2 separate regions of the Homo sapiens genome follow, and region 1 is linked to region 2. The links come from fine-mapping of genetic effects on gene expression. A gene starts in region 2. The other region holds a variant in brackets. All regions are shown on one strand. Distances are between the middles of the regions.

Region 1 (5,381 bases), 43 kb after region 2:
AGGAGGTTGAGGTCGCAGCGAGCTGTGATCACTCCACTGCACTCCAGCCTGGGTGACAGAACAAGACGCTGTCACACACACAAAAAAGAACAATTCAATTTTCATGTATTTTTCTTTTCCTCAGCTCTGGACTGAAGCCAAGGTCTAATGTCATCAGTTATGTCACTGTCAATGATTCTCCAGACTCTGACTCTTCTTTGAGCAGCCCTTATTCCACTGATACCCTGAGTGCTCTCCGAGGCAATAGTGGATCCGTTTTGGAGGGGCCTGGCAGAGTTGTGGCAGATGGCACTGGCACCCGCACTATCATTGTGCCTCCACTGAAAACTCAGCTTGGTGACTGCACTGTAGCAACCCAGGCCTCAGGTCAGTGTTATCTTCACAGCTTGAGTTGAATTCTCCTTTGATGTGTGAATGCTTAAATATTTTGCCATAATCCACTTATATCAGTGGTAGAGACCAGTGGTGTAGACATTCTTAAAGAGACCTTAATTCAGAAATCAGTTCCCTGCACAATGTGAAATTATTTTTGGCCATCACTTTATCTTCCTGTGTTTATTTTGCTTGGATTAATATACAAATGAGATTGTAGTCTCAGAAACACATTCAGTGCTGATGGGAGAAAGCAGACAAGACGTGTGATATTGCAAGAAGAATTAGCAGGCAATTAGGTTTGCCACAGATGATTTGAATTTGGCAATTGAGATGTAGACAGGACTTGATAATATTGAAAATGACTGCAAAAGTGTTTTGGAAAACAGTTATATTCTTTAGATTTTTTTCTCACCCAGTGTCATAGCAGTGATGCTTTTGATGGTTTTATTACCAACCCAATTACTTCCATCATCTTTGCCCTGTTAGATACTGGACTTAAGCTCCCTGGTTTAGTTATTGTGTTAGTTGGGTAATAGCAGTTGCAGTAACAAATCCTAGATTTTTGTAGCATAACATAGTAGAATTTTACTTCTCTCTCATATAATTTCTTGGTACAAGTGTTTGATTCCTGAGCATCCAGTCAGAAGGAGAAAGAAAGTGTGAAGGAGGCACACACATGTCTTAACCTCTTTAGGCTGGAAATAAGTGGAAATAGTGAATGCTTCTCACATGGCCCCACCTAGATGCAAGTGAGCCCAGGCAATGTAGTCTTGTTAAGGCAGCTGCTTTTCAGTGACAACTTCATACCAAGGAAGGGGTTGGTGAAGTTTAGGTGTCAACATAAACCTGGGCCATACTTGTATAAATTATGTTTTATTATGTATTATCTTACTGCCATAGACATAAACAGGGTTGTAATTTGAGGGTATTGTGTTATGCCTCTGTGTGATTCTTTTCAGAAGTAGACAGTTGTCCCATTGCAGACAAGAGAGAGAGCTTCCTGATGCCAGGCTACTGAATAGAATTATTAGTACCTCCGTGTGCTCTTGGGTCCAGAGAATATAGGCTATCACATGAGACACTGAATAAATGCTCTGGTTTTCCTAATGGGAACACAGAAGCAAGCAAAATTTCACATTCAGCTGTCCTGTAATTTCTAAGAATTTGAAGACAGTAAGTGTCCAACAAGATAGAATTTTGCCTTCTTTTAAACCCTCTTGCCACTTTAATATCCTAAGAATTACCAATAGCTTTCTCAGCTTCACATTATCATTTCTGTGCTTGTTTAATCCCTTCCTACATAAAACTATAAACTCTTGGAGAGAGGGATGGTGTCTTAGCATATTTGTATTTCCAGTCGTTCCTTGTATATAACAAGAGATTATAGTTAAAATATTTATAATATTTATTTAAGTGAACATTTTGAGGATCCTATGTGGAGATTTGTGCCAAGACAGAAAAGAAATGGGTGATAACAGGTTATTTTCTTCTGATGTAAATAGAATTGAGACCTTAATGCTTGCAAACTACATACAGATGTGGACTAATTAATATGATGCCATCTGAGGTTAGCTCAGTGATGTCTACTCATAACTATTAAGCCTGGTGCTTTTTTAGGTCTCCTGAGCAATAAGACTAAGCCAGTCGCTTCAGTGAGTGGGCAGTCATCTGGATGCTGTATCACCCCCACAGGGTATCGAGCTCAACGCGGGGGGACCAGTGCAGCACAACCACTCAATCTTAGCCAGGTAAGTGCTATGGGCTACTGCCTTCTGTTTGGGCCCTGCACTGTTGTTACTTTCTGGAGAACCCTGCTTCTGGCTGGATGCTGAATAAAGCCAAATGAAGCCCCTTTTGTGTCAAACAATTTTGTGTTCTATGGCTTACGTCGTACCGCATATGCTGTGTCTCTTCATTCACTCTGTAAGTGTGTTCAGGATGTACATTCTAGGTTTTCCATCAGACCTCCCTAAGTCTACCCTGGAAGGTTAGAGAAACGTCTGGGATTTAGAAAGAGCCTGGGGTGCTTTAACCATGTCTGTGATAGGCATATGCTTTGAGACCAGATTCTCTTTATCCCCCAGGCCATAAGTAAGCTGATCCTTACATTGTTTACTTGAGTCAAGAGATTGTGAAAAGCTCATTGGCCACCAAATTCAACTGGTTCTAGGTCCTACTTGTTGCTGGAGTCTGCGATTTGGGACTTCCCCACTCTCCGAACACCCCCAGCCCCAACCTACCCTTCTGCTTCTCTCATTACTTTATTCTATTTGTGTTCACTCTTAGAAGCTAAAATTCGAGTGCTTGTATGATGTCCACCAGTAGTGAGAAAGTGTCAGTATGAGGGTATGTGAGAGAGAGCACATGCAAGTGAAAATGTAAGTTTGAGTTAGTGCATGTATTTTAGTTTCCACATTTCAAGAGGGGTATGAAGAACTTAGAGGACGAAAACAAAAGAAAGCAATGGTAAGAAATAAAGGCTAGGAAAAATTCAAATTTACTGACGCCAGAATAGGGTGAGTTGAGTCACCAGTTATTAACTTGCAGGAGTGGGGAACCCTATGATCTCTTGATTCTCCCTCTTCCTGTCATACTTACAAGCAAAATGCTGTTACCTGAGCCAGATTAGGATCTATCTTGCTAAGAGGCAGAAGGAGGGGTGGCTGATTTCTGACAGCATTCAATGCCAGTGTGGGAGATTATGTGCTATACCCATTCGAAAACAGTACAAGTCAGAACCTGAGCTCTTAACTTGGCCTTTGGTGCCCTGAGCTGGAGTGACCTCAGGATTCCTCACTTCTTCCTTCTTTCTTCCAGAACCAGCAGTCATCGGCGGCTCCAACCTCACAGGAGAGAAGCAGCAACCCAGCCCCCCGCAGGCAGCAGGC[G/A]TTTGTGGCCCCTCTCTCCCAAGCCCCCTACACCTTCCAGCATGGCAGCCCGCTACACTCGACAGGGCACCCACACCTTGCCCCGGCCCCTGCTCACCTGCCAAGCCAGGCTCATCTGTATACGTATGCTGCCCCGACTTCTGCTGCTGCACTGGGCTCAACCAGCTCCATTGCTCATCTTTTCTCCCCACAGGGTTCCTCAAGGCATGCTGCAGCCTATACCACTCACCCTAGCACTTTGGTGCACCAGGTCCCTGTCAGTGTTGGGCCCAGCCTCCTCACTTCTGCCAGCGTGGCCCCTGCTCAGTACCAACACCAGTTTGCCACCCAATCCTACATTGGGTCTTCCCGAGGCTCAACAATTTACACTGGATACCCGCTGAGTCCTACCAAGATCAGCCAGTATTCCTACTTATAGTTGGTGAGCATGAGGGAGGAGGAATCATGGCTACCTTCTCCTGGCCCTGCGTTCTTAATATTGGGCTATGGAGAGATCCTCCTTTACCCTCTTGAAATTTCTTAGCCAGCAACTTGTTCTGCAGGGGCCCACTGAAGCAGAAGGTTTTTCTCTGGGGGAACCTGTCTCAGTGTTGACTGCATTGTTGTAGTCTTCCCAAAGTTTGCCCTATTTTTAAATTCATTATTTTTGTGACAGTAATTTTGGTACTTGGAAGAGTTCAGATGCCCATCTTCTGCAGTTACCAAGGAAGAGAGATTGTTCTGAAGTTACCCTCTGAAAAATATTTTGTCTCTCTGACTTGATTTCTATAAATGCTTTTAAAAACAAGTGAAGCCCCTCTTTATTTCATTTTGTGTTATTGTGATTGCTGGTCAGGAAAAATGCTGATAGAAGGAGTTGAAATCTGATGACAAAAAAAGAAAAATTACTTTTTGTTTGTTTATAAACTCAGACTTGCCTATTTTATTTTAAAAGCGGCTTACACAATCTCCCTTTTGTTTATTGGACATTTAAACTTACAGAGTTTCAGTTTTGTTTTAATGTCATATTATACTTAATGGGCAATTGTTATTTTTGCAAAACTGGTTACGTATTACTCTGTGTTACTATTGAGATTCTCTCAATTGCTCCTGTGTTTGTTATAAAGTAGTGTTTAAAAGGCAGCTCACCATTTGCTGGTAACTTAATGTGAGAGAATCCATATCTGCGTGAAAACACCAAGTATTCTTTTTAAATGAAGCACCATGAATTCTTTTTTAAATTATTTTTTAAAAGTCTTTCTCTCTCTGATTCAGCTTAAATTTTTTTATCGAAAAAGCCATTAAGGTGGTTATTATTACATGGTGGTGGTGGTTTTATTATATGCAAAATCTCTGTCTATTATGAGATACTGGCATTGATGAGCTTTGCCTAAAGATTAGTATGAATTTTCAGTAATACACCTCTGTTTTGCTCATCTCTCCCTTCTGTTTTATGTGATTTGTTTGGGGAGAAAGCTAAAAAAACCTGAAACCAGATAAGAACATTTCTTGTGTATAGCTTTTATACTTCAAAGTAGCTTCCTTTGTATGCCAGCAGCAAATTGAATGCTCTCTTATTAAGACTTATATAATAAGTGCATGTAGGAATTGCAAAAAATATTTTAAAAATTTATTACTGAATTTAAAAATATTTTAGAAGTTTTGTAATGGTGGTGTTTTAATATTTTACATAATTAAATATGTACATATTGATTAGAAAAATATAACAAGCAATTTTTCCTGCTAACCCAAAATGTTATTTGTAATCAAATGTGTAGTGATTACACTTGAATTGTGTACTTAGTGTGTATGTGATCCTCCAGTGTTATCCCGGAGATGGATTGATGTCTCCATTGTATTTAAACCAAAATGAACTGATACTTGTTGGAATGTATGTGAACTAATTGCAATTATATTAGAGCATATTACTGTAGTGCTGAATGAGCAGGGGCATTGCCTGCAAGGAGAGGAGACCCTTGGAATTGTTTTGCACAGGTGTGTCTGGTGAGGAGTTTTTCAGTGTGTGTCTCTTCCTTCCCTTTCTTCCTCCTTCCCTTATTGTAGTGCCTTATATGATAATGTAGTGGTTAATAGAGTTTACAGTGAGCTTGCCTTAGGATGGACCAGCAAGCCCCCGTG
Region 2 (5,381 bases):
CTGTTGGCTCAAGGGACTTTTCTGCTTTTTATCGTTTACTGCAGACCTTCACTCTAATCTGGTTTTCCCAGTTTCACAACCTGTTGGCTTCTATTTAAATTCTCTTTTTTTTCCTAGCCCCTAGGATTCACTATTTGTTTGAATAGTTTGCCTAGCTTTTTGGTTCAGCTTCTCTCAAGACACAGCCTTCTCATCAGCTTCTCCTATTTGGCCTTAAGCACTGCCGCTCTTGGGCAAATGACTTCTTGCCTGCAACACTGAATCTAGGCTGTAGGCCCTAGAAGGATGTCATACCCTGAATGAAACTTGAATGCTTCCGATTGCTAACTGCTCCACCTCCCTCTCCAGTTGCTCTGACTTGGTTTAGGAGGATGTATTTCACATATCTGCCCCTTCTCGCCTTCTTTCCTGTGTAATCAAACCCTCATCATAGTTTTCTGATTAGGATCCCTTTCTCCAGTCTTTACCCACTCCAGCTAGCCCTCTTCCTTCACCATCACTAGTTCTCTCTCACATTACCTGTCTGAATAAACTTCTTTTTTGAGACAGAGTCTGGCTCTGTTTGCCCAGCCTAGACTGCAGTGGCACGATCTCGGCTCACTGCAACCTCTGCCTCCCGGATTCAAGCGATTCTCCTGCCTCAGCCTCCCGAGTAGCTGGGATTACAAGCATATGCCACCATATCTGGCTAATTTTTGTATTTGTAGTAGAGATGGGGTTTCACTGTGTTGGCCAGGCTGGTCTTGAACTCCTGACCTCCAGTGATCTGCCACCTTGGCTTCCCAAAGTGCTGGGATTACAGGCATGAGCCACTGTGCCTGGCTACCTGTGCGAATAAACTTCTAACAGCTCTACATTGCCTTTCAAAATCTGACTCAATTTACCTTACTACTTCCAAATCGTGCAACTTCTCTGCTTAACTGTAAGCTCCTTCAGGGCACAGACCATGCCTTTTCTTCTGTGTATCCTTAATTTCTTTTTTTTTTATTTCTTTCTTTCTTTCTTTTTTTTTTTTTTGAGACAGAGTCTCACTGTCGCCCAGGCTGGAGTGCAATGGTGCAATCTCGGCTCATGGTAGCCTTCTTCTCCTGGGTTCCAGCGGTTCTTCTGCTTAAGCCTCCAGGGTAGCTGGGATTACAGGCATGCGCCACTACACTTGGCTAATGTTTGTATTTTTAGTAGAGACGGGGTTTCACCATGTTGGCCAGGCTGGTCTCGAACTCCTGACCTCAGGTGATTCACCTGCCTCAGCCTCCCGAAGTGCTGGGATTACAGGCATGAGCCACCACACCCAGCCCCTTAATTTCTTATATAGTGCCTAGCACACAGAAGATGCTCTATAAATAGTTACTGAATGGACAAATGACTAAACTTTGAAACTTCTTTGACCTTACTATGCTCAAATATCACTTCTGATGTTCTTCTCCGACTCTCTCACTTATCTTATATATGTCTGCACACGTTTTTTCCTCATTAGACTGTAAGGTCCCTGAGGGAAAAGACCATGCTTTATTCACCTGTCTCATTCATACCTGACCCAGTGTCTAGAAGAGTGTATAGCACAGAGCAGGCACACAAGCAGTTTGCTGGATGAATGAGTGAATGATACTAAAGAGGAGAAAATACAGACTTTAAGAAGCTCTCCGTATAGTGAGAAAGACTGAGGACCTAAGAGCAATGAAAATAGAAGTTAACAAGTATAAATAAAGAAGGTACAGGTTAATTTAAGTAATCAGATGATGATGCAGAATTCAAATAAAATAGGAGTCAATCAGCAAAGGTTCCCGAAAGGGTGAATTCTGAGAGATATTTGAAAAGAGGAAAGGGACATAACTTGAGAGAGCAGGAGTTTAGGAACATGTCAGAGAGTTAGGTTGAACCAAGGCATGATAAACATGTTTGAAGCTTACATTCTGAGCAGGATCTGTTCTACCCAGACCACAGGTTTCTGCCTTTTTTTCTGGCTCATCAAGCAGGCATGTTTACCCACTCTTTTTATCTTCATGTTTCCCAGGTCAGCCCAATGTGAGGACTTTAAGTAGTAGAAGGAAGTTTCTGTGAAAATATGCAAACAAAACTGCCTTGTGGGATCGAACATTTTTGGTAACCCTAGTTCTCTAGGGAAATAAACTTCCCTGTTCCAGATAAAATGGAACTGCTCCCCGTGTTGTTAAGCCAGAGAGAAAGCCAAATGACTTCCCTTAAAAGGTACTTCAGCGCATTTTACACAAATCATAGTTTTCTGTGTGTGTTATGGGGATCCAAGGAAATCAAAGATGTTAATGAGTGAGATTTGAGAAACAAAACTTGATAGTAGAATTTTGTCTTAGCCACAACTGCCCTTCTCCTCACAGAGTATATGCAAATACCGATGGTGACGGACAGTCACTTTCTAGAGCTCAGATCACTGCTGCCTCCAGCACTTGTGGGATGGAAAAAATGAAGAAATTACAGTTGCCCTAAAAATGTCCCCCACTTCAGGAACCTGAATATTTTACACAGCAGGAGATACATCGGAAGTCCTACAGAATCTCTTGACTTTGGGAGATGCAACTGCTTTTCTATTAGGATAACCTAATTTTCTGTGTCCATTTTCTCAGAATGTTGTGCCCAACGCGTTCTGTTTCCTAAATACCCAGCCTTCCTTCTGGTAGAGGCAAGAAAATTATGCTAGCATTCGCTCACTGCATGTTTTGAGCGTTTGAGTTCAGAGTACAGCTATTCTCTCTCCTCGTAATGTAAACACAGGTTCCCACGGCGGCAATGGGAGACTCCCCTAAGGGGCTCTTGACGTACAGGGAGACTTCCAGATATGGTACACAGATGTCACATTGCTAGAACGTCTCTAGACGGCAACGAAACATTAAAGCCTAACCTGAGGTAATCCCTCACCGGCAGTGAAGCTCCTCTGCTAGGCACTGTCGTCCCGTACACTGCCCAAGCTCTGGGGGTGTCACACTAAACTGTGGTGATGTCACACTAGCTGGGATGACATTTTACAGTTGGATCCCGTACCACCGCCAGGCACCTTTAAATCACCGCAGAGTCTGCAGTGCGGAGGGGGCGGGAAGTCCAGGCCCCGCACTCGATCCACGCTGGCTCCCTACGGAGGCCCACCTACTCGAGGCCCACCGACTCCTACTGCAATCAGTACTATGCGATCGTCCTAGAGAGTCCATTCAGCTGCACTTCCGCCTCAGTAGGTGTCATGGCGCGGGGCGGGTGAATAGTTCCGGCGAGGCGGGGCCGGCCGGGTTGAGGGACGGCCGCTCGGCATTCCGTTCGTCGGGTCTGGCGACAACGGCGGCTGCGGAGCAAGGGGCCCGGCGGTAGCCCCGGACGGCAGCAGGAGGCCGAGGCGGGAGCGCGCGGGGCTGAGGCGGCGGCGGCGGCGGCGGGAAGGGGCTGGGTGGTGGAGCGGGAGGGAGGCTGAGGAGGCTCCCCCTGCGGGACGGGCGCGGGGACGGCTCCGGGGGGCGGGGGCCGGGGCCCGGGCCGGCTCGCGCGGGGGGTATGATGACCCGGCTGCGGGGCCCCAGATCTCGTCTCCTCCGCCGCCTCCTCACGGCAGCCCCAGCTCGCGGCTGAGAACCAGACACACCGGCGGTGAGTGGGGACGGGCAGGAGGGGTCCTCGGCGGGGAGCGACTTCCCCTCAGCTCCCTGAGGCGGGGCCGGGCCGGCCGCCGGCTCTCCTGGAGCGCCCAGCCTGCCGGGGGCGCCTTCCTCAAAGGGCCCCTGCCTGGGACCGGGCGCCGCGTCTTGCGGCCCGGCCGCTCACTGCCGCTGAGGGGATTGCCTTCCCAGGAAGGTGGGGAGGCTCCGGGCTGGTTTTCGGGGCAACTCCCCCTGCCTCCTGCCACTTCTCGCCTGGGCGTGTTGTCCTTAAGTGACAGGGGACCGCCTTGCGTCTCCTCACTCGGCCGGTTTTTTCCCCGGCTGTCGTGGCAGGTTCCCAGTGTGTGGCTTGTGCGTGTGTACTTCACAGCTCCGCTTATCACCATGGTTTTGGGTTATTTGTGCTGTTTGGGACCAGGAAGCCGTGCCTGGAGAGGACGACAGTGGGGTGGGTGTGGAAGCTTTTCTGTCGTCTCCGCTGATGTTCTGTAGTCGTTAGGCTTGTAATTCGTAATGACGGTGGAGACTACGTGAGACCAGCCCACCTAATGTATATCTGTACAAGGGAGATCTAGAGGTCTGGCCCAAAGGGAAACTTTTGCTGCCACCACTTTCAAAGCTTTCGTTAAAAAAACAAAAGGGAGGGGGAAGGTGGAGAAACAACCAAAATTCTGGTAAGGCCCACACTGTTCACAGGTCTGTGGGGAAGAGTCCCCTTTTTGTGCTTAGCAACCAAGACGTGGAGTTCCGTCTCCAGGAGCGTTGGTCTAACCTCCAGTTTGTTGTGGTGACGAGCTGTGAGCAATGGCCTGTGTTTATGCTGGGCGAGCTTTCTTTCCTACTTGGGGAGGGGGGTTCAGGATGGGAGGATGCGGGTAGGGAAGAGGGGGGGAAAACCCCCAAGCTCCAGTAAGTCTTTTCTTTACTTAATCACTGATTCTGTTGTAGGTAGACTCATTTAGAGGCAGTCCTAGATGCTCTTTCTTGTCTATTAGTGACACTTTGGGAATTCTCAGTAATTGCATCAACATAATACTTTCAGCTATAGACTCTCTGTCCCAATCTGTCCTTTATCTTGTTTCTTAGTAACTGGTGAAAACAGCAGTGTGGCTTCCCGCTCTTGATGAAATAGGGTTAAATTAAGTGGCTGATGCCCTCAGCAAACCTACAATTTTCCTTTTGTTTGTGTAAAGCTATTTTTGATCTCTGGTCTGTGGGTTTTTTTTTTTTTTTTGTAAGATTATAGAGAATGCAAACTATTACTAGCTTTTTTCATATGGAAGCCTAAAGCTTTCTATAAAACATTTTAAAATCTAACAAATCATTTGACCTAATTTTCATTATTCAGCTGGTGATTTTGGATCTTTACATGTAATTATCTCAGGGTTCTGTGTTATAATACTGTTATGATGAAGGGTGGCATTGACTTTAAGATACTGTTCCTGGCTTGAAAGATATTTTAGTAAAGTACTTGCGGTTGGAACTGGAGGCAGCCAAGCCAGTAAAGTATCTTAGAATAAAATGGTGAATGAGATCTTATAAATATACTGGCTCTGGTTGGCAAGTAGAACTTTTGCTGGTGATACCTTCATGAATAGTTTATCTCTCGACACTGTAGTTTTGTGGTTTTTTGAGCAAGTTCGTTGGTAACTTGAGACTTCAAACCAAACCAGAACTTCCTTCTAAAAGAAAAAAAAAGAAGAGATAATCTCAAAGTTCACAATTCTTTGGAAAATAAACTTCTTTCATTCTGTGCTTTTGTTT

The links. PIP is the estimated chance that this variant, and not a neighbour inherited with it, causes the effect.
Region 1: its variant is fine-mapped to the expression of HIPK1 in whole blood (TOPMed, PIP above 0.99).

The regions. Positions count from the first base shown.
Region 1 is chr1:113,969,832-113,975,212 of GRCh38, forward strand. It overlaps HIPK1 (homeodomain interacting protein kinase 1), which reads left to right. Exons shown (of 16, transcript NM_198268.3): 14 at 125-366; 15 at 1,993-2,123; 16 at 3,193-5,381. The coding sequence ends at 3,681. Among named protein-coding and RNA genes, the nearest start is that of OLFML3, 7.0 kb to the right of the region's middle. The variant G/A (reference allele first, on the strand shown) is at 3,264.
Region 2 is chr1:113,926,334-113,931,714 of GRCh38, forward strand. HIPK1 (homeodomain interacting protein kinase 1) reads left to right here and starts at 2,991. Exons shown (of 16, transcript NM_198268.3): 1 at 2,991-3,199. HIPK1-AS1 (HIPK1 antisense RNA 1) reads right to left here and starts at 3,192. Exons shown (of 3, transcript NR_110726.1): 1 at 3,029-3,192; 2 at 1,911-2,055. RefSeq lists an enhancer at 2,902-3,221 and silencers at 3,342-3,391, 3,412-3,721.